Regions from separate parts of the Homo sapiens genome. Here region 2 is linked to region 1. A link means that fine-mapping ties the variant in region 1 to the expression of a gene that starts in the linked region. Tissue or cell type: whole blood. Region 1 holds a variant in brackets; the other region holds the start of a gene. All regions are shown on one strand. Distances are between the middles of the regions.

Region 1 (10,886 bases):
AGAGGGACATTAATCAATCCCCATTTCTATTTTAACAGGGGGGCAAGGTAGGGGAGAGGGAAAAACAGTTTGGTATCTATTTGGAGGGAGAGTAGACATGAAGAGGGCAAACCCTAGCTTCTCATTATCTACAATCAATGTTTTTTTTTTCTTAAAAAAAAGCTTTCAATCTCTCTTTAAAAGCCTACTTCTTAGCTACTAGCCAGTCCACCCTAATTATTTAAATTCATTTGGTACACACTTTTGTTCACTGGGCAAATTATATTCATTATGCCCACTGCTGCAGCACGCATAAACCAACACCCCTGCATGGCTGAGCAGGGCCTAATCTAGGACTGACAGGAGAAGTGCTTGCAAACCAAGATCAAGGTGTCATTTCTCTGCTAATACTGTCTACCAAGCTGATCCCTACAAAAATGCACATAAAAGCAGGCAAGTTTAGCTACTGTGTTGCAAGAGAAACCAGGACCTTGTTAAATAGTTCTCTCCATTACCATTTATTCTCTCAAGGGAGACTTAAAAAAAAGAAAAGAAAAAGAAAAAACAACCCATTGGTCTGGCCACCTCATAAATCCAACAACCATTGGTGTGTCATTTCAGTGGAGAAGGAAACTTGGGGGGAAAAAACCATCGAGGTTGTGAGAAAGGCTCCCAATTTAACTGTCCCTGTCCCTATTTATCCACCTTTATTCACCACCCAAGACCATCCATTACCCTAGAGCACCCTGATCTATAAAAGGGGTCAAACCATTAGGAGTAGGCAACGAGTGAGAACCAAAAGACATCAAGAAACCGATTTGCTTGAGAAAAGCAGCGATTCTGCCTTTCACTCCTCTCCATGGCTGAGAGAAAATGCCCAAGAGATCATCTATGTGACTTAGAGACTGCTTTTTGGGAGGTTAAGAGTAGCATGAAGAGCTTAAGATGACGACAAGAGTCTAAATTTTTAAAGTTTCAAGGTTTCAACAGAATGTGGATATATTCGAACTTTCAAAAAGGACAGTGTTTAAAAAGGGTAAAACCAGGACACACAAACATTGGGAATTATCATGACCCCCAAGTGCTTCTGGCTCCGGGAAATAACCATTCTTGTGTTTGCTGGAGGTCGCACAATTTTCCCCTATTACCTGATACAAAATGACTCATTACCTCCCAAAAGCTTCTTTTCAAACCACAATTTTCCCATTTATCTTGGTCCAATGCAGTCCTATTCTTTATGGCCTATAGACTCACCCCGAACTACCCCCTTGGAGGGTAAAAAAAAAAAAAAAAAAGAATGAAAGAATTCCCTCTAGGCTGGCCCCTAAAACTCAGAATTAAATAACAGGAGGGGCTGGGAGCCTCCTGAAGACTAAAACAACTTGAGGCTAAATCTACCTTTCCAAGAGTGAAAAATTTATTTAGATGTTTGAGAATTCATATATGCCACAATAGGGTAAAAAATAAAAAGTAGAAATCTCACACTTTTCCTTATACTTCCTTCCCCTACTGTCCAACCAGATTCCAGACCTTATCTCACTGTCATTACCATTTCCACTAAATGGAGGCTCCTAGGTATTAATCACTCTGGCAACTGCATGGTGACAAAACGCACCACAACTTTTCCACTAAAAAGCTGTAGTCTCTTTCTCTCTGGCTATATTGGCGATTCTCCAGTTACTTCAATACTCTAAAGGCTGCAGCAGCATGCAAAAGAATTTCACTTAAAAAAAAAAAAAAGAAAGGTAAGAAAAGTCTCCAGGAGATGGTGAGTTTTATTTTGTCTTGTCTGGATAGAAGTTTGATTTGCTCTCGAACGTTCCAGGGTGGAGAGAAACTAGGAGAAAGCACAGGATGTCTAGGTCCACTCGGCATAATCTTCTCCCTTGTTTTCATCTTCACCAGAAACGGAGACAGCAGCATACTTGCTTGCAGAACTGAACTTGGAAGCTGGATTTTCCTCAGGTTTCTTTGGCTCAGGTGCAGATCTGGAGTCTTGATCCTTTTTGCCATCTTTCCTATCTGACTCCTTTCAGTGGTCTTTGTTCCCTCCATCTCCTGGACCACAGCTAGAGTTCCCAGTTTGACCTTTTGGGACTTTCATCCCATCCACTTTATTTTCATCTTTCTTTGCTGGTCCTTCCTCAGATGATCGAGCTGGAGCTACTTTTCCCCCACCACTTGTAGGGGATTGCTGCTCTGTGTCTGAGCTCTGAGATGGAGCAGGAGCGTTAGAACTTCACTTCACCGAAGCATTCTCCTTTGGTGGAGGGGCTGGCATTACCTTTGGGTCTGGTAGGATCAGGTTTGAGACGTTTAGAAGTTGGAGAGTGACAATCTTCCTCCTTATTGAGTGTTTCATTTTCTAGAGACTTCTCACTCTCTCTCCTTCGTGCATTTCTGCTGGGTATGGCGGAGGTCTCAGTCTGCGATGACTCACTTCCTGTCCGCGACCGTTCCATTCTTGAGTTTCTTCACTTTGCCAGCTTGGGTGTCTCTCCCGAGGCCGTCGTTCTAGTTATGGCTCATCCAGCTGACGCTGCAACTTCTCTTGTTCTGTAGCATTTCTTCTACTTCTCTTTCTCTACCAGCTGTGTCAACCGGCTTTGCCCCTCCAAAGATAGAAGCAGCTCGACTGGACTGGGAGGTACTAGCAGAGGAATCATCTTCCTTGGGAGTACTCCAAAGCTTTAGATTCAGTTTGGGTCTTTGCGGGGACCTCTATCATCACACCTATAATCATCCCAAGTGTAATCATCTCTGGAGCTCCACGACCGATCATCCCGTCTGTTGTATCGGTCTTCAGAGCGGTCCCTGCCTCCTCTGTAGTCATTATCCCTGCGGTACCCACTACCAAATGCTCTTCTGCCATTGCCTATCTGGGAATCATAGCCTCTATCATAGTGTCTGCTGCCTGGGTCATCATAGCAATCCTGGCCGCCATATCGATCCATATCCCAGCGTGGGCCATCCTGATACCCCTCCCGATACCCACCGCGATACCGGTCTGAATCATAACGATCTTGATACTTGTCTCCAAAGCAATCATCACCTCTTCTAGGCGAGTAGTCATCCAAGCTGTCTGTGACAGGACGAGCCCTCCAGTCTGTATTTGTTTTGTCAAAATCCCGATTTCTCTCATGGCCAAAAGAACGATCGTCCCTGTCTTTATCCTGTGCTCGGTCAGCAACGTCCACTCGAATTCTCCTGTTACCTAGAGATTCTTTATTGAGACTCAGGGCACTGAACAGGGAATCCAGGTCGTCAAATTCAGCATAACCAAAACCTTTCAACCTCTCTGGATTGCTGGGTTCACGTGGTAAACACACTGCACTGATATTTAATCCTCTAAATAATTCCTTAATTGACTCTTCTGTCACGTCATAGGGTAGGTTCCCTAGAAAAGCAGTGTAGGGTGGCGATTTGGGAAGACCGCTCCGGTCGATAATGGGTTCCCTAGCAGCCCGTGGAGCAGTGGGAAGGATGGAACGGTCAACTGGGGGCGCCCTATACACATCGTCATCGTTACTGTGCCAAGCTGAAACATCTCCTTCAGGTCATCCGTTTCATCAACCCAGCTGACTGGTTTGGATACATAGCTACTTCCTCCACCAGTCCGCCATCCTCAGCCAGAAAGTCTGTTAGGGAGATAGTCTTCCCCTTCTTATTCTTCTTTTTCGCTGAGGCAGCCATGTTGGGAGAGGGAAAGAGAACGCAAAGGGAAATCTAATGTCTTAACAACTTGACAGAATAATTCACTGCAAGTCTGTTGATCTTAACCCAGCTAGAAACATTTCCTAGGTGTGTCCTTTTCTCACTTTGCTTATGTATATTCATGGTTCTGTTATAGTCATAATGGGTGTGTATGTTCAATTTGGTATTCTTCCTTTTATGTAACATGATTTATCCAAATATTTTCTATTTCCTATAGCACCTTCATATTCATCATTTTTAGTATATCACTAGAGTATATCATTTTGATATGCCATAGTTAGCTTCTTTCTGTATATCTGTATTGTTGGGCTCTTAGCTTTATTCCAATGTTTGCCATCATAAAATAAACATTATATATACATACACTTTTTATTAAACATCATTTCCTCAGGATAAATTCTATTACTTGGTCAGGGGTTAGGCATATTTATGATTCTTTCAATAAAGTACCATTTTGCCCTTCAGGAAGACTGAATCAGTTTACGCTGCTTTCATTAATGCATGAGCATATCTGCTTCCCGAAGCCTTGCAGGCTTTGGCTTTTACAACTTTTTAAAAGTTTTTCTAAATTTTTTTAAGGCACAAAATGAAACTTCACCGTAGGTTTAATTTGCAGTTATTTTACCAACAAGGTTGACTGAATAGTTTTAAAATTATGATTTACTGACAGTGTTTCTTGTTGTATGAACTGTTTTTTAATCATTTGTTTAATAGTTGGTAATTTTACCTATTTATATGCACTCTTTATACTTTTTAGTTATTGAACTTTGTCTTCATTTGCAAACTTTTTCTCCAGTCTTCTGAATTTTTAAATTTCAGCTTTATTGGTATTCATTCCACCAAAGATAAAGCTATCTAAGTCATGAACCTGTCCGTCTTTTTTTCATTTATATTCCATCGACAGTCAAAAAGTGATTTCCCCTAGTGCTAGTCTTTTACATATGTGTATTTGTTTTTTTAAATGTATTTAACTCCCAATCTACCTGGATTTTTTTTT[TC/C]AGAGTGTAGTGCAAAGTGTGGGTCTTTTAAATATTCTCATTATTGATATTCCTGTACACCAAGTGTTTCAAATTTGTTACCAGTACATTAAATGTCTGCTAGGACAAATTCTTCTCATCACTCTTTTTGAATCTGAAATGCTCTTTGATGTACTTGCTCATTTATTTTCTCCACATACAATAAAAATTATATTAATTTTATAAAGCATCTTGCTTCTAATTGGTGACTTGTATCTAATTCTAATTTAGAATTAATTAAATCTAACCCTGAATCCTCTATGCACTGTGGTGAGTTGAGGCTGAGTTGTGTCCTTCGTAAGGCTCAGCCTGCATTGATTTTACTCCTGCTTCTTCAGGATTTTCAGCAGAAATCCTAGTGTATTCTCCATGCTCTTCCACCTGGTGGGCCAAGAATTCTAATCTTTGTCTTTACAAGACTGCCGAAGGCTCTGTTCTGCTTCAGAAGTTTTCTGCTTCTCTTTTTAGACTCCAGCCTCATGCACCCCTGTAATTTAACAGATGTTCTCTGGAGACCTTCCAAATCTCCTCCCATATCCCTCCTGGCCTCTGCCTCCCAGCAGTGGCCTTCCTTGGGTGCAAGGCCTGGGGTTATCAGTCTCCTCCCCAAGCACAGAATCAGCAGATGACCCCTAGGCACAGTGGCTGCAGAACTCAGCTCTCCCTAGCTGTGATTCTCCCTCTCTGGAGTTTTGGCTCCTTCAGTTATTGCTAACTCAGAAGCCCTTTTCTGCCTTAAAATAGATGCCTCCTCTATTTTGTTCTAATTTTCTGCTTATTTTAGGTGAGAACACATTCTGTCACTAGCTAATTCATCCCACTTGGAAACATAGGTTTATTTCACCTTAAACATTTTTCTTCTACCTTCTTATATTTTAAAACCAAAAAATCTTATTTCTGTTTGACATATTCCTCAGAAAAGCCTATCCTGACTTCTCAGACTCAGTTAAGCAGTACATTTTATATCACTCTCTACCTCTTTTTAAATATTTATTGCAATTTTAATTAATTCTGTAATTTATTTTTTAATTATTTTATTTTATTTTATTTTATTTATTTTATTTTGTTTTATTTTATTTTATTTTATTTTATTTGAGACAGAGTCTTGTTCTGTCACCCAGGCTGGAGTGCAATGGTGTGATCTTGGCTCATTGCAACCTCCGCCTCCCAGGTTCAAGCGATTCTCCTCCCTCAGCCTCCTGAGTAGCTGAGATTACAGACACCATTACGCCCGGGAATTTTTTGTATTTTTCATAGAGATGGGGTTTCACCATGTTGACCAGGCTGGTCTCGAATTCCTGACCTCAAGTGATCCACCCGCCTTGCCTCCCAAAGTGCTGGGATTACAGGCATAAGCCACTGCGAACTGTAATTTATTTATTTATTTTTAGAGACGGTGTCTCACTCTGTTGCCCAGGCTGGAGTAGAGTGGTGCAATCACGGCTCACTGCAGCCTTGCTCAACCTCCTGAGCTCAAGCAATCCTCCCACCTCAGCCTCCTAAGTAGCTGGGACTGCAGGCATGCACCACCACGCTCAGGTAATTTTTGTATTTTTTGTAGAGACAGTGTTCTGCCATGTTGCCCAGGCTGGTCTCAAACTCCTGGGCTCAAGTGATCTACCTGCCCACTCCTCCCAAAATGCTGGGATTACAGGTGTGAACCACTATGCCCAGCCTGTAATTTATTTATATAATCTCAACACGCCCTGTTGGTTCTGTTTCTCTAGAGAACCCTGACCAATACAATTATTTAGTATCAGGCCAAGTTAAAGGTTTTTTTTTTGTTTTGTTTTTATTTTTTATTATACTTTAAGTTCTAGGGTACATGGGCACAGTGTGCAGGTTTGATACATAGGTATACACGTACCATGTTGGTTTGCTGAACCCATCAATTCCTCATTTACATTAGGTATTTCTCCTAATGCTATCTCTCCCCCAGCCTCCCACCACCTGACAGGCCCCGGTGTGTGATGTTCCCCACCCTGTGTCCAAGTGTTCTCATTGTTCAATTCCCACCTATGAGTGAGAACATGCGGTGCTTGATTTTCTGTCCTTGTGATAGTTTGCTCAGAATGATGGTTTCCAGCTTCATCCACATCCCTGCCAAGGACATGAACTCATCCTTTTTTATGGCTGCATAGTACTCCATGGTGTATATGTGCCACATTTTCTTAATCCAGTCTATCATTGATGGACATTTGGGTTGGTTCCAAGTCTTTGCTATTGTGAATAGTGCCACAATAAACATACGTGTGCATGATTTACAATCCTTTGGGTATATACCCAGTAATGGGATCGCTGGGTCAAATGGTATTTCTAGTTCTAGACCCTTGAGGAATCACCACACTGTCTTCCACAATGGTTGAATTAGTTTACACTCCCACCAACAGTGTAAAAGCGTTCCTATTTCTCCACATCCTCTCCAGCATCTGTTGTTTACTGCCTTCTTAATGATCGCCATTCTAACTGGTGTGAGATGGTATCTCATTGTGGTTTTGATTTGGATTTCTCTGATGACCAGTGATGATGAGCATTTTTTCATTTGTCTGTTGGCTGCATTAATGTCTTCTTTTGAGAAGTGTCTGTTCATATCCTTTGCCCACTTTTTGATGGGGTTGTTTTTTTCTTGTAAATTTGTTTGAGTTCTTTGTAGATTCTGGATATTAGCCCTTTGTCAGATAGGTAGATTGCAAAAATTTTTTCCCATTCTGTAGGTTGCCTATTCACTCTGATGGTAGTTTCTTTTGCTGTGCAGAAGCCCTTTCATTTAATTAGATACCATTTATCTATTTTGGCTTTTGTTGCCATTGCTTTTGGTGTTTTAGTCATGAAGTCCTTGCCCATGCCTATGTCCTGAATGGTATTGCCTAGGTTTTCTTCTAGGGTTTTTATGATTTTAGGTCTAACATTTAAGTCTTTAAACAATTTTGAATTAATTTTTGTATAAGGTGTAAGGAAGGGATGCAGTTTCATCTTTCTGCATATGGCTAGCCAGTTTTCCCAGCACCATTTATTATACAGGGAATCCTTTCTCCATTTCTTGTTTTTGTCAGGTTTGTCAAAGATCAGATGGTTGTAGACGTGTGGTGTTATTTCTGAGGCCTCTGTTCTGTTCCATCTGTCTATATCTCTGTTTCGGTACCAGTACCATGCTGTTTTGGTTACTGTAGACTTGTATAGTTTGAAGTCAGGTAGTGTGATGCCTCCAGCTTTGTTCTTTTTGCTTAGGATTGTCTTGGCAATGCAGGCTTTTTTTTGGGTCCATATGAACTTTAAAGTAGTTTTTTCCAATTCTGTGAGGAAAGTCATTGGTAGCTTAATGGGGATGGCATTGAATCTATAAATTACGATATTGATTCTTCCTATCCATGAGCATGGAATATTCGTCCATTTGTATGTGTCCTCTTTTATTTCATTGAGCAGTTGTTTGTAGTTCTCCTTGAAGAGGTCCTTTACATTCCTTGTAAGTTGGATTCCAAGGTATTTTATTCTCTTTGTAGCAATTGTGAATGGGAGTTCACTCATGATTTGGCTCTTTGTTTGTCTGTTATTGGTGTATAGGAATGCTTGTGATTTTTGCACATTGATTTTGTATCCTGAGACTTTGCTGAAGTTGCTTATCAGCTTAAGGAGATTTTGGGCTGAGACAGTGGGGTTTTCTAAATATACAATCATGTCATCTGCAAACAGGGACAATTTGACTTCCTCTTTTCCTAACTGAATACCCTTTATTTCTTTATCTTGCCTGATTGCCCTGGCCAGAACTTCCAACACTATGTTGAATAGGAGTGGTGAGAGAGGGCATCCTTGTCTTGTGCCGGTTTTCAAAGGGAATGCTTCCAGTTTTTGCCCATTCAGTATGATATTGGCTGTGGCTTTGTCATAAATAGCTCTTATTATTTTGAGATACGTTCCATCAATACCTAGTTTATTGAGAGGTTTTAGCATGAAGGGCTGTTGAATTTTGTCAAAGGCCTTTTCTGCATCTATTGAGATTATCATGTGGTTTTGTCATTGGTTCTGTTTATGTGATGGATCATGTTTATTGATTTGTGTATGTTGAACCAGCTTCAAATCCCAGGGATGAAGCCAACTTTATCATGGTGGATAAGTTTTTGATGTGCTGCTGGATTCAGTTTGCCAGTATTTTATTGCGGATTTCCGCATAGATGTTCATCATGGATATTGGCCTAAAATTCTCTTTTTTTGTTGTGTCTCTGCCAGGCTTTGGTATCAGGATGATGCTGGCCTCATAAAATGAATTAGGGAGGATTCCCTCTTTTTCTATTGATGGGAATAGTTTCAGAAGAAATGGTACCAGCTCCTCTTTGTACCTCTGGTAGAATTCGGCTGTGAATCCATCTGGTCCTGGACTTTTTTTGATTGGTAGGCTATTAATTATTGTCTTAATTCCAGAGCCTGTTACTGGTCTATTCAGAGATTCAACTTCTTCCTGGTTTAGTCTTGGGAGGGTGTATGTGTCCAGGAATTTATCCATTTCTTCTAGATTTTCTAGTTTATTTGTGTAGAGGTGTTTTGTTTGTTTGTTTGTTTGTTTGTTTTTGAGACACAGTCTCTCTGTGTCTCGCAGGCTGGAGTGCAGCGGCACGATCTTGGCTGACTGCAACCTCCACCTCCCAGGTTCAAGCGATTCTCCTGCCTCAGCCTCCCGAGTAGCTGGGACTACAGGGGCATGCCACCATGCCCCAGCTAATTTTTTTGTATTTTTAATAGAGATGGGGTTTCACTGTGTTAACCAGGATGGTCTCAATCTCCTGACCTCGTGATCCACCTACCTCAGCCTCCCAAAGTGCTGGGATTACAGGCGTGAGCCACCACGCCCGGCCTGTGTAGAGGTGTTTATAATATTCTCTGATGGTAGTTTGTATTTCTGTGGGATCAGTGGTGATAATCCCCTTTATCATTTTTTTTGGTGTCTATTTGATTCTTCTCTCTTTTCTTCTTTATTAGTCTTGCTAGTGGTCTATCAACTTTGTTGATCATTTCAAAAAACCAGCTCCTGGATTCATTGATTTTTTTGAAGGTTTTTTTGTCTCTCTATCTCTTTCAGTTCTGCTCTGATCTTAGCTATTTCTTGCCATCTGCTAGCTTTTGAATTTGTTTGCTCTTGCTTCTCTAGTTCTTTTAATTGTGATGTTAGGGTGTCAATTTTAGATCTTTCCTGCTTTCTCTTGTGGGCATTTAGTGCTATAAATTTCCCTCTACACATGCTTTAAATGTGTCCCAGAGATTCTGGTACGTTGTGTGTTTGTTCTCATTGGTTTCAAAGAACATCTTTATTTCTGCCTTTATTTCGTTATTTACCCAGTAGTCACTCAGGAGCAGATTGTTCAGTTTCCATGTAGTTGTGTGGTTTTGAGTGAGTTTCTTGATTCTTCTAATTTGATTGCACTGTGGTCTGAGAGACAGCTTGTTGTGATTTATTTTTATTTTTTCTTTTTCTTTTTTTTTTTGAGGTGGAGTCTCGCTCTGTCACCCAGGCTGGAGTGCAGTGGCGAGATCTCAGCTCACTGCAAGATCCACCTCCTGGGTTCACACCATTCTCCTGCCTCAGCCTCCCGAGTAGCTGGGACTACAGGCACCTGCCACCACGCCCGGCTAATTTTTTGTATTTTTACTAGAGACGGGGTTTCACTGTGTTAGCCAGAGTGGTCTCAATCTCCTGACCTCGTGATCCACCTGCCTCGGCCTCCCAAAGTGCTGGGATTACAGGCGTGAGCCACCGCGCCTGGCCTGTGATTTCTATTATTTTACATTTGCTGAGGAGTGCTTTACTTCCAATTATGTGGTCAATTTTGGAGTAAGTGTGATGTGGTGCTGAGAAGAATGTATATTCTGTTGATTTGGGATGGAGAGTTCTGTAGATGTCTGTTAGGTCTCCTTGGTGCAGAGCTGAGTTCAAATCCTGGATATCCTTGCTAACCTTCTGTCTCGTTGATCTGTCTAATATTGACAGTGAGGTGTTAAATTCTCCCATTATTATTGTGTGGAAATCTTAAGTCTCTTTGTAGGTCTCCAAGGACTTGCTTTATGAATCTGGGTGCTCCTGTATTGGGTTCATATATATTTAGGATAGTTAGCTCTTCTTGTTGAATTGATCCCTTTACCATTGTGTAATGGCCTTCTTTGTCTCTTTTGATCTTTGTTGGTTTAAAG
Region 2 (10,886 bases), 21 kb before region 1:
CCCCGTCTCTACTAAAAATATAAAAATTATCTGGGCATAGTGGCATATGCCTGTAGTCACAGCTACTCAGGAGGCTAAGGCAGAAGAATCACTTGAACCCAGGAGGCAGAGGTTGCAGTGAGCCAAGATTATACCACTGTACTCCAGCCTGGTTGACAGAGCGAGACTCCGTCTCAAAAAAAAAAAAAAAAAGTACCCCCTCCTACTTTATCCCATACTACCCTACCCTACCACTGCCCTCACTCCCCCTACATTTGTAATCTGCTTTTCTCGCTGCAGTTTGCTTCATGCTTTTCTTTCCACTATATTTTCTTCATGGTGATTCCCATCTCACACACCTTGGGAGACCTAAATCCCTTTTATTCATGCCTAAAGTTTACTTGCTTTTGTTAGAAGTTCCTCTTCAAAGACATGATCGATTTCATCTGGGGTTGCAGGTAACTGGACAGTTAACTTGAATGTTCCTTTTCCTTGCCATACCAACTCATGATTTTTTCTCTCCAGAACCTTCTGCCGAACTGAAATGTCCAAAGGGGGGAAAAAAGACAAATGACAAGCAATCTTTATTTACAAAATTATTCTATGATTTCCGTGGGCTGCATTACCATCAATCAATGGCTTGGTCGGTTTCTCAAGAGAGGCTATATGTGAAGTAAAAGAGGAAAAGTTTAGCAAGCAAACATGGATTTGAATTTCTTCCTTAAACTGACTTTTTAATATTGAGCATGTTCCCTAATAAGCCATACTTATAAGGCCTCAGTTTTCTTGTCTATTTGTAAGGTTAATGGAGACTGTTTTGTATGAGTGCCACGTGTATTAAATTGAAGAAACATTATAAAGAACTTGGTACAGGACCTGACACTCAGGAGGTACTCAAAAGGTAGCAATATTTATTCTATATTGAAGTGAATTAAATTAAAGCATCCTTCAATGGGAGCCAGTGAAGATTGGGTACTGGGACATGCCATGATGAAAGTCACGTTTTAGGAAGGTGGCTAGGTGGCTGTAAGCAGGAGCCTAGTTAGAAACAGGTCTCACATCTGATAGTAAAAGGAGTATAAAAGAAGGGGGAGATTTTTGCAAAAAAAAAAATGAACAAATTAATAGATTAGCATATCAGGCAGCTTGGCTGTAGTGAAACAACTGAACAGTGGACATAGAGTCCAAAGATCTGGATTTGAATTCCAACTCTACCACAAATAGCTGAGTGAATACCTTAACTTCTCTCAACTCTCAGTTTCCTCACTTAAAGTGGTGTCCATGAATGCACACTGTAACATCCTCAAGAACTACGCAGATGTGAGTTACGATTATAAAAAGGAGCAGCCAGAGAGATATGAAGAAAATCAGCATATCTCAGTCCATGAAGAACGGGAAGAAGTGAGTTTCAAGGAGGAGGCATGATCAACATAGTCAGATAGTACAAAGAGGTCAGGGAAAAAAGGAGTTTTTGAGAGTGCCCTACAGGTCACAGGTGTAGCTCTAGCATGAATGTTGGGTCACTATGCTGTGTTCTGATATGGCTGGCCTGATGAGGCCAAGGATATAGATCAGAATCTTTCATGAATAGGAGCATGATAGCTTTCCCACCTCAACCCTCTGTGAAGAGGGTGGAGGAAGTGGGGTCTTAATTGGATGCCAACTCAGAAATAGGCCTCAGAAACAACCTGAGAAGGAACGCCAGCTTCTAATCTCACTCTTTATGAGGAGGGCAGATGTTTCCACACAAACTCCTGAAGGGCTTTACTAAACCAAGGTGGGGATTGAGGACTGGATAGGACCCCTGCAGCCTGACAACAAGCTAAATTTTGTAAGTCAAGTTATTTAGAGTCATGGACCTCTGTGTTACAGTCCTTTTCTTATTCCCTAGACTTTGATAAAGTCCTGTCTAGGCATCTAAATGTGCCAGTCTGTTCTCAGATTGTGGGCAATATTTATGGGCACAAGTATTTCAGGAGAACAGTTGGTAATAATATGGGTATATGATCTCCAAAAAGGAGAAAGTCAATCTGGGAGGAAAAAGCTGAAACTCTGATGTCCAACCTCCCTTACCCAAGTGGACAGTCTTCCACCTGCACCAACTTTAGATCATCAACATTTAATTTTATTTAAGGAGAAGATGGGTTCTTACCACAAGGAACCCGACAACAACCAGGAACCAAACTATGTTGGTAAAGTATGATAAAATAGACACATCTGAAACAGGGCTTAAAATGTTATGTCAATTTACACCAACTTTTCAGAAATCCAGTGAACTATATAAAAGTGAGATACAGCTTCCCATTTGTTTCTATTTGCTATACATGAATAAATACGGAGAAGTGCTGGTGGGCTCATTCTTGTTATCTGCCTATTACAGTTTATATGAATCAAATCAGGTTATGCTATGGGCCCGCACCTGTTGAGGCCACTTCCTGGCATGGAGGGTGGAGAGTGTCCTCTGCAGAAGAAGAATGCACTTCTGGGACTTCAAGCGTAGGTCATTCATTGTTAGCAAATTCCTGACCCTTGTTACTGAGAAAGTGGTTCCTCAAGTAGGAAACTGAAACTGACTAGGGATTTTCCACCCCCAAGAACTTAGACCATACTAGGTTTCGAGTTTGTTTTTGTTTGTTTGTTTCTTTTTGTTTGTTTGTTTTTGTTTTGTTTTAGATGGAGTCTTGCTCTGTTGCCAGGCTGGAGTGCAGTGGTGCGATCTCACCTCACTGCAACCTCTGCCTCCCTGGTTCAAGCAATTCCCCTGCCTCAGCCTCCTGAGTAGCTGGGACTATAGGCGCACACCACCACGCTCGGCTAATTTTTTTGTGTGTTTTAGTAGAGACAGGGTTTCACCATGTTGCTCAAGGATGGTCTCGATCTCCTCAACTCGTCATCCACCTGCCTCAGCCTCCCAAAGTGCTGGGATTAACAGGCGTGAGCCACCACGCCCGGCCGGTTTTGAGTTTTAATAAGTTTTGGGTCATCTGTGCTGGGGGGTAAGACAAGAGGGGCCACTGGAGCAGCCTGGGGGTGGAGGAAGAGGAGTAGTGGGCTGGGGCCGGTCAAGGATGGAAGCCCAGCAGGAAGACTGAAATCTTTTCTGCTTGGAGGGCTAGAATTGAGTTATTTTATCATCACAAAATTATACTTTGTGCTATTTGTATTTTCATGCTGTTTAAATTTGTATAATTATTTCTTTTTGTTCATTTGGGGTTAACATTAACTACGGAAATTCTGAAACTTGAACACATTAGGGTCACCTGGGCTGCCGGTTAAATACACGCTTCCCACCCACCCCACATTCACTGAACCTGAATCTCTAAAACAGAGCTGGGAAGGTGCCTGGTTAACCTGCTCTCCAGGTGATTCAGATGCAGGTCAGACCTACTTCTAAGGATAATGGAATCTAAAGGAGAAAGAAGCATCCTTAAGGGCCAGATCGATGGTGATGCTGACCTCTGAAGTCAAAGTGGGGAAAACCCTCAAGGAAAAGTGACACCCAAAAGAGAAATGACTAATATCACACAGTTGCCCTTCTGAGCACTCCTTGGTAAAATTAATCCTAGGAAAACATGGTATTTTGTTTTCATAAGGGCCATGAGCCAAGCATATCTCCTGTCCCCCTCCTTCCTTCCTTCTGTGCGCCATTCTTTTTCTGTTTCATTTTTCCTTTTTGGATCCCTGCTTGGGCACTCTAATTGCATGGCCTCAGCCTCAGCCTCCTTGCCTCTCCTCTGGCCCGAATGCTTCTCCAAATCTAGCGACATGAAAGCGGAATTAGGGGTTGACTAGATCCCGATAGGTCATCATCCATAAGATGCCAGTGGAAAAGGTGCCCATTCTGGGAGCTGCAGGTCACTGGCTTCCCATTGCAGACCAGGGAGGCCCTTGAGCCAGCAGATCACCTCTGGGCTCTTGGCCCACCAAGTAGTGGTGGGTCTGTAAGGAGGGAACTTTGCCGACTTTCCCTCCAAAGCTCAAATCTCCCAACCCACAATCACTTCAGAATATCATCCTTGCTCCCAATCTGAGGGCCACTAGAGACTCGGAGAAGAGGCCCCGGCAGGCCCTCGACAATGGGCACCTGTGGTCGATCGACAGCCCCTCCAATGTGGCCGCTGTGACGGCTCTACGTTGACATTCAGGCAGTGTGATTTTAGGTAGCGCCTCTGCCCCTCTCCCAAGTGACCCCGGGACCCCTGGGAATCTCCAAGAACCACAAGGAATCTCTGTGACTTGCCACGTTTCTTAATCAGTTTCCTTCCCCACACAAGAATAATAACAACAGGAAAAGACAGAAAAGGATGATAAGAGGATAGACTCACTTCCACAACAACAACAACAAACAATAACACCACCACAACAGGGAAAGACAGAAAACGATCGAGGGATAAAGAGTTACTTGCGCGGTTCCGCCGCCACCTCCGGGCCGCGCCATTAAGCGCCTGGAAGCGCAGGGCGCCGGGGAACCGCAGCGCCCCGGGTGCGCTCGGAATCCATTCTGCCGCCCCCGCCCCCGCCCCCGCCCCGGCCACCTCCGCTACAGCAGCCGCCGAAGTCGGGCGGGTCACCCTCCCGTGCGTGCCCTGCCGCCATTTCCCTGGAGGGAGGGCAGAGGTGCCCCCTCCTCACCCCACCCCTCGCGCCCCTCACCGTCCTCCGGGTAGAAGAACACCAGGAAGCGGGATGGGCTCCTGGGATCCTGGCGGACCTCACACTCGCCGCCTCCCGACCTCTTCGGGCTCTGGAAGTACATCTGCAACTTGGTGTTCAAGTTCTTCGGGGGGTCGGGGCCCCAGGAGCCCTCGACCAGCAGCGGGAAGGAGCCGGGCACAGCCATCCTCAGCTCCGCTCTCCGCCGGACTGCAGGGGCCGCGCCAACTCCGGGCCGCTAACTTTGACTCTTTCGCTTTCGTTTCCTGGAAAACTCCCAGGCCTTGGTTTCCTTTTGCCTTCAGCCTAACACAGCGGACCCAGGAATGGCAGAGTCATCCCCCGCCCACCTCCCCACCTTCGCATTCGGCCCACAGCCAAGGCCAAAGTAACCCTTTGGGGCTGGCCAGCGGCGCCCCGGGAAGGCGGCCTCAGTTCACCTGTGCTCCACGGGCTCCCACACCCCCTCCTAACTCCGGGCCCCCTACCTGCCGCTCGCCCCAACCGCAGATCAAGTCGGCAGCTTTGGGGCACCAGACCTTGCCCAAACGCAAAGATCATTTAATTTTTGCCGCAAGCCGACCCTTTACAAAAGAATAAAATGACTCACAAACTGTGGCCCCTTTAGAATGTTTGCTGCCTATTTGGGGACTTTTTCAGCAATCATTGTGATTATCAGAATTTTACGTTGCTTTCCCTGTTTTGCTTTCTGTTCCTTGATCTGTTAATACTACATGTCTAGAAATGTGGGGGAAACAATTACACTCACAGTTTTTTTTGTGGAATATTTACTAGGCGCCATGCACTCACTCACTGAACCCTCGCTGAGCTCACGGAGCTATGGTGAACACAGTGGGCAATAGGTGCTCTGGGAAAGAATATACTTGTGTTCCTGGAACAGATGAGGAGTGGCTCCTAGTCCAGCTGTGGCGGCTCAGGGAGGGTTTATAGGGCGGTGACATGTAACCTGATAACCCCAGGATATCAGGGGATAGCCTTGGAGGGTTAGGAAGTGGGGTTCCACGGTGTGATTCACATGTACAGGATCACTCCGGCTGCTGCGTGGTGGCTAGAGTGGAGGCAGAGAGATCAGCCAAGTGGCTACCATAGTGTCCTAAGTGAGAGACAAGGGTGGCTGAGACTGGGGTGCTGGCAGAGAAGAACTGAGAAAACGAGGATTCTCAATTAATAGTGAAAGCAGGACTTGCTGAAGAATGTGAGCCTTGAGAGAAGGAGAAGCTCAAGGATGACTCCATGGTCAGCCATGGATGGCCCGTGCAAGTGGCTGGATAATAGTGGCATCTGCAAGAGGGGAGGCCGAGTGATGGGAGAGAAGCTGGGGCTGTGTGTTTCCTTGACCCCAAATAAAGCAGTGTTGCAAGTCGAGGGGGGCGGGGGGATTATCATTCCAGTGCTACCGATACCTCAGGTCAGAGAAGTGTCTGCTGGACTGCTGAGGAGCGGCAAGCATAGTCTCCTGGTGAGGAGGGAGGAGAGGGAGATGGCAGCTACTGAAGACTGAAAGGGAGGGAAGGAAGTGGAAGCAGAGAGCGTAACACGCTCTTTGCAGAAATGTGACCGTGAAGGGGAAGAAGGAGCCAGGCAGTAGGTTGTGGGGTTACAGGATCGGGCTGAATTTCAGAATGAAGAGAACCAGAGATGGGCCAAATGGTTTACCTGGCTTTTATTTCGGCTCTGTAATAATCCTAAACAGTACACAGATATTTTCTCCTGCCTCCAGCTTGCTACCTGCAGATGGCGCTCATCATCTGATCCAAAACTGCTCTGGACCCCCGCATGCGGAAGACGGGAGGACAAGCGCCCTCAGCCAGACTTGGTGACTGTTTCTCCCCAGGGCCTTTACATCTCATCCCAAACCACAACTAAAATCAGCACTCCTCCTCTCCCACTCTCCCCTGAGTTTGGGGTTCCAGAACTCAGCAAAAAGTTTCCCTTTTTCCTCACATAATTATTGTATAAGAAATAAAGTCAGAGGCATTTCTGGATTACTTTCGAGGATTTATTTAATTATCGACAATGTGTCTTACCACCGAGGTCTGCTTATCATGCCTGGGTGGACTGGGAAGGAGCTATCAGAGGATCAGGATGGCAGGTCTTGAAAGCCAAGGAAAGAAAGTTCTAGAAGGGGCAAATTGTTGAACGGCATTAGCTCCTGCAGTACTTTGTTTTCTGCAAGTTATTTTTGCCTTGTTCACTTGAAGAATGCGTATCCTCTCACAATTCTCTGTTTCCTGTGGGTATCTGCCTTCTGATCCTTTCTTCCTGGGAAGCACGTGTCTTCTCAGGGCCTGGGGTGGGGGTGGCCTGCTGTAGAAGTGGCCGTGTTCCTTGATTCTCCTTCTACTTCACAGCTACAGCTCATCTTAATGTAACAGCCCATGTCTGCATTTTTGGGCTGAACTTCCCTTTCCCTACTTCATCTAAATTCCCCCTTTTGGTTTCTCTACAAACTGCCGTAGCCTAGCATCGTGCTCTTTTGAACTTCTCTACCAACTAGCATCAGCCTCCTCATTTCTACCATTGAGGTATAAAGGAGGGAAAGGGCTGCTTTCCCTTCTGTCCTGAATCAGTGAGTTGTAGGTACCTCATGCCCACCACTCCACCTCATTTTGCTTCTGAAACTCCTGACCTAGTCACCCCAAAATAAGACATGGCCATACATCAAGGGAAAAGTACTCCAAGAAGTTCTACCCTCAGAGGGAGCCCCCTGATGGACACATCACAGTCTTTGGCCTTACTCCCTATGCTCAGGTACCTTTCAAGAGCTTTTATCTTCAAACCTCCATAGGGACAGTCTCCATACCCCTCAACTGGCCAGGACAGTAATTACTACTGATGCATTTTCCCAAATAGAAGTAATTTCGTTTCACCAATACTATGGTTGAGTGGGAGGTGGAGGTGGCTTCTCCAGAAGAGTCCAGAGTAGACTTGATCTTTCCGTGTTTGTGTAAAGACCTTTCCTCATCATGCAATTAGGTAACCATTGAATTGAACACACATGTGTATGTCTCAAGACAAGCATTCATTTTCAGTATAATCTAGATCATATTTTTTTAAATAGAAACACACAATATTTTACTACCACACTATATCATGCATGACACCTACCAGTAATGGCTGTTAAATATTGAGCAACCAGATTTTTGAAACAAAGTTTCCATGTGTGTTATGTTTATTATAAATTTTACTGATATAATGGTTGGATAACACATAATTTACAAATAATAACAAAATATATAATACTCTATTGTAGTTTCTAAATAGCTGATTGATTCTCAAAGAATGTTTCAAAGATTTTTGCCACAATTATATCTATACTAATCATTCTGGATTTTGTTTCTTTGAATTATTGGGCAGGGAAGATACTTAAGTATGGAAGATTATTGCTCTAATTTGGGTGAAATAAAAGTTTATTAGTGCAAGACAAACATAACTCATTTAACAATAAAGTTTGTGTTGGATATATATATATATATATATATATTTTTTTTTTTTTTTTTTTTTTAAAGCCATAGGCAAACTATGGTTGCCATTGAGGAATGAGTGTAGTTTTGACATAAATGTAAGTTGACACTTTTGTTTACATTAACAAGTAAAATGAAAGTGAAGCAATGCAGACATGTCAGAACCCTTATTTGTCAATGACATAATTCCTTCTTTACTAAATTGGATAATAATTTTCAAATACTGGAAGAATATTTCCTCAATTTTTTGTGCTTTTTACAATGTAATGGCTATAGATGTGACCCACTTTTAAATAATCTGCCCTGTTAGCAAATTCTCCATCACTTTAAGTCAAGATAACCAACAAAGCAACGACTCAGGCCCTGATGTGTAGTGTTTTTCAATTCCATGATGTAAATATTCTCACAACAGCTGATGAAGTTCCCAGTGTGATTTCAGTGAATGCCGAGTTGGAAAGAGATGAACAGTGGCACACCATTACAAATATCACAGATATTTATTATCTAAAAGCTCCAAGTCCTAGATCCATCAAAGCCTGAGGCAGGACGTTTTTATTGGATTATGGACTGCCTGGAAATGTAGCTACAGAGTCAATGTGGTAATCAAATTTAAAGAAAAACAACAAAAACTGTCAGAATCCAACTTGAAAATTGAAAGAACTCATTGAGTTCTGGGCTCACTTCCAGAACTGTCTGTGTCACCCACACACATCTCCATTAAATTCTTGAATAATAAAGACAGAAAGATATTTCCAGAAGTTTTACTCAGACATCTAATCTCACCTTTCTTCTTGGTTGCTACACTGACCTCAGATCATGAAACTCAAGGAATACTTTGTTTATGTTACTATTATACTAGAAGACAAAAGTATTTCCTTTGAAGCCTAAAAAAATATATAGCAAGGGAAGCCTAAAAAAATATATAGCAAAGGAAAAATATATAATGAAGACTGTGGAGAAATAAATAGTATAAGCCTAATTCTTCTATTCAGCCTTGTGGACAGAGTTAGGAAATAGCTCTAATTTCAATCAGTCACCACAGGTTCTTTCTCTCCTACTATTTCATATTTGTATAATTCTTATGATCTTCTTCTCATATGATTCTCTTGTATGAACCTTATCTCAAAGTATGAACTTTGTTTCCCAAGAACATTAATATATTTACTTATTTTCTCAATCCTTCATTACACACAACATAGTTTGGAATTGGAACTCTGTTATAAGCTGAATGCTTGTATCCCCCCAAATTCATATGTTAAATCCTAACTCCTAATGTGATGGGCATTAGGAATTGAGGCCTTTGGGAAGTGATTAGGTCATAAGGGTGGTGCCCTCATAAGTCAGATTAGTGCCCTTATAAAAGAGAACCCAGAGGGCTCCTCTCTGCCTTCTGCCATAGGAAGACATGGCAAGAATATGGCCATCTGTGAATCAGCAGTTTGGGCCCTCTGTAGACATGAAATCTGCTGGCACCTTGATCTTAGACTTCCCAGACTCCAGAACTGTGAGAAATACATCTCTATTGTTTATTAGCTAGCCAGTCTATGGTACTTTGTTATAGCAAAACTGAATAGACTAAGACAAACACCAATACCCAATACCATTATCAACAACAAATCTACTAAATAAAGATTTCCTTGTAGTTCTTTTTATCCACTGAATAGAAACTATTGAGGGTGTATAGTAAGAGTACTAGGCTCAAAAGTTACTTGGAATACTTTTTTCCTGAGTATGGTTTTGTTATAAGACACATAATCAGGGTCATCATTTCTGTTTGGATTCAATTTTAGGGCTTTTCCTCATCCTTGTTGACTTTCTTTTTGGAAATGATAAAATTTTAACACTCAAAAATCAAAACCATATAAAGATATATATTCAGAGAAGTCCCCTAATCCTCTCACTCCATCTCCACTATCTCTGTAAGTAACCAGGTAAGCATATCATCAGTTTCTGGAATATTCTTCCACCGTTTTCTTTTTGCAAAAATATGTGTTTTGTGTATGACCTTTTCTTCTTTTCATGCAATAGGTAACATGCTATAAATAAGTAATTTATATCTGTATCTATACACACAGTTATACTTTGAATTTTACATTTAATATATGCTGTAAGTTATTCCATATCAGATCACAGAGATCTTCCTCATTACTTTTTACAGCTGCCCAGTTCACTGAAGTATAGATATATAGAGTTTATTTAACTCATCTCCTAGGCATGGCATTTAGGGCATCTCTAATATTTTGCAATTACAAATAATGTCACATTGAGTAACCTTGCACATGTTTGTTTGGTTATTTGTTTGTTTTGTTGGGAGTATATTTTCAATGTAAATCCCTAGATGTGGGAATGACAGGTTAAAGAGTAAATGCACATACACTTTCCTTATATATTGCAAATTTCTTTCCATAGGTGTTTCAGTTATCTGTGGTTAGATAACAAACCATCTCAAAATGTAATGGCTTAAAACACAACCATTTTATATTTATCACACTCTATGAGTTGGCTGGGCAGGGATCAGCCAAGATGGTTCCTCTCTGCTATTGGAGGTGCCAGTTAAGCTTGCTCATACAGCTCCTATTTGGTCTAGAAGATCTAAGATGGCCTCACTCATACCTGGCCCCTCAGCTACGATGGTTAGAATACAGAGCCTTCCTTTGATGTGATCTCTCGGGCAGGATAGCCTAGACTTTATGTGGCCCTGGCTTCACGGTGAGCAAAAATTTAAATTGCAAGGCTTCTTAATGCATGGGCTTTGAGGTCACATAACAT

The links. PIP is the estimated chance that this variant, and not a neighbour inherited with it, causes the effect.
Region 2: PARP14 starts here. The variant in region 1 is fine-mapped to the expression of PARP14 in whole blood (INTERVAL, PIP 0.97).

Annotation. Positions count from the first base shown.
Region 1 is chr3:122,653,399-122,664,284 of GRCh38, reverse strand. It overlaps the pseudogene EIF4BP8. Among named protein-coding and RNA genes, the nearest start is that of PARP14, 22 kb to the left of the region's middle. The variant TC/C (reference allele first, on the strand shown) is at 4,691.
Region 2 is chr3:122,674,817-122,685,702 of GRCh38, reverse strand. It overlaps PARP14 (poly(ADP-ribose) polymerase family member 14), which reads right to left and starts at 4,864. Exons shown (of 17, transcript NM_017554.3): 1 at 4,633-4,864; 2 at 385-518. The coding sequence starts at 4,819. RefSeq lists enhancers at 2,451-2,640, 2,661-2,740, 4,126-4,215, 4,757-5,156, 4,581-5,353 and 1 more and a silencer at 4,467-4,516.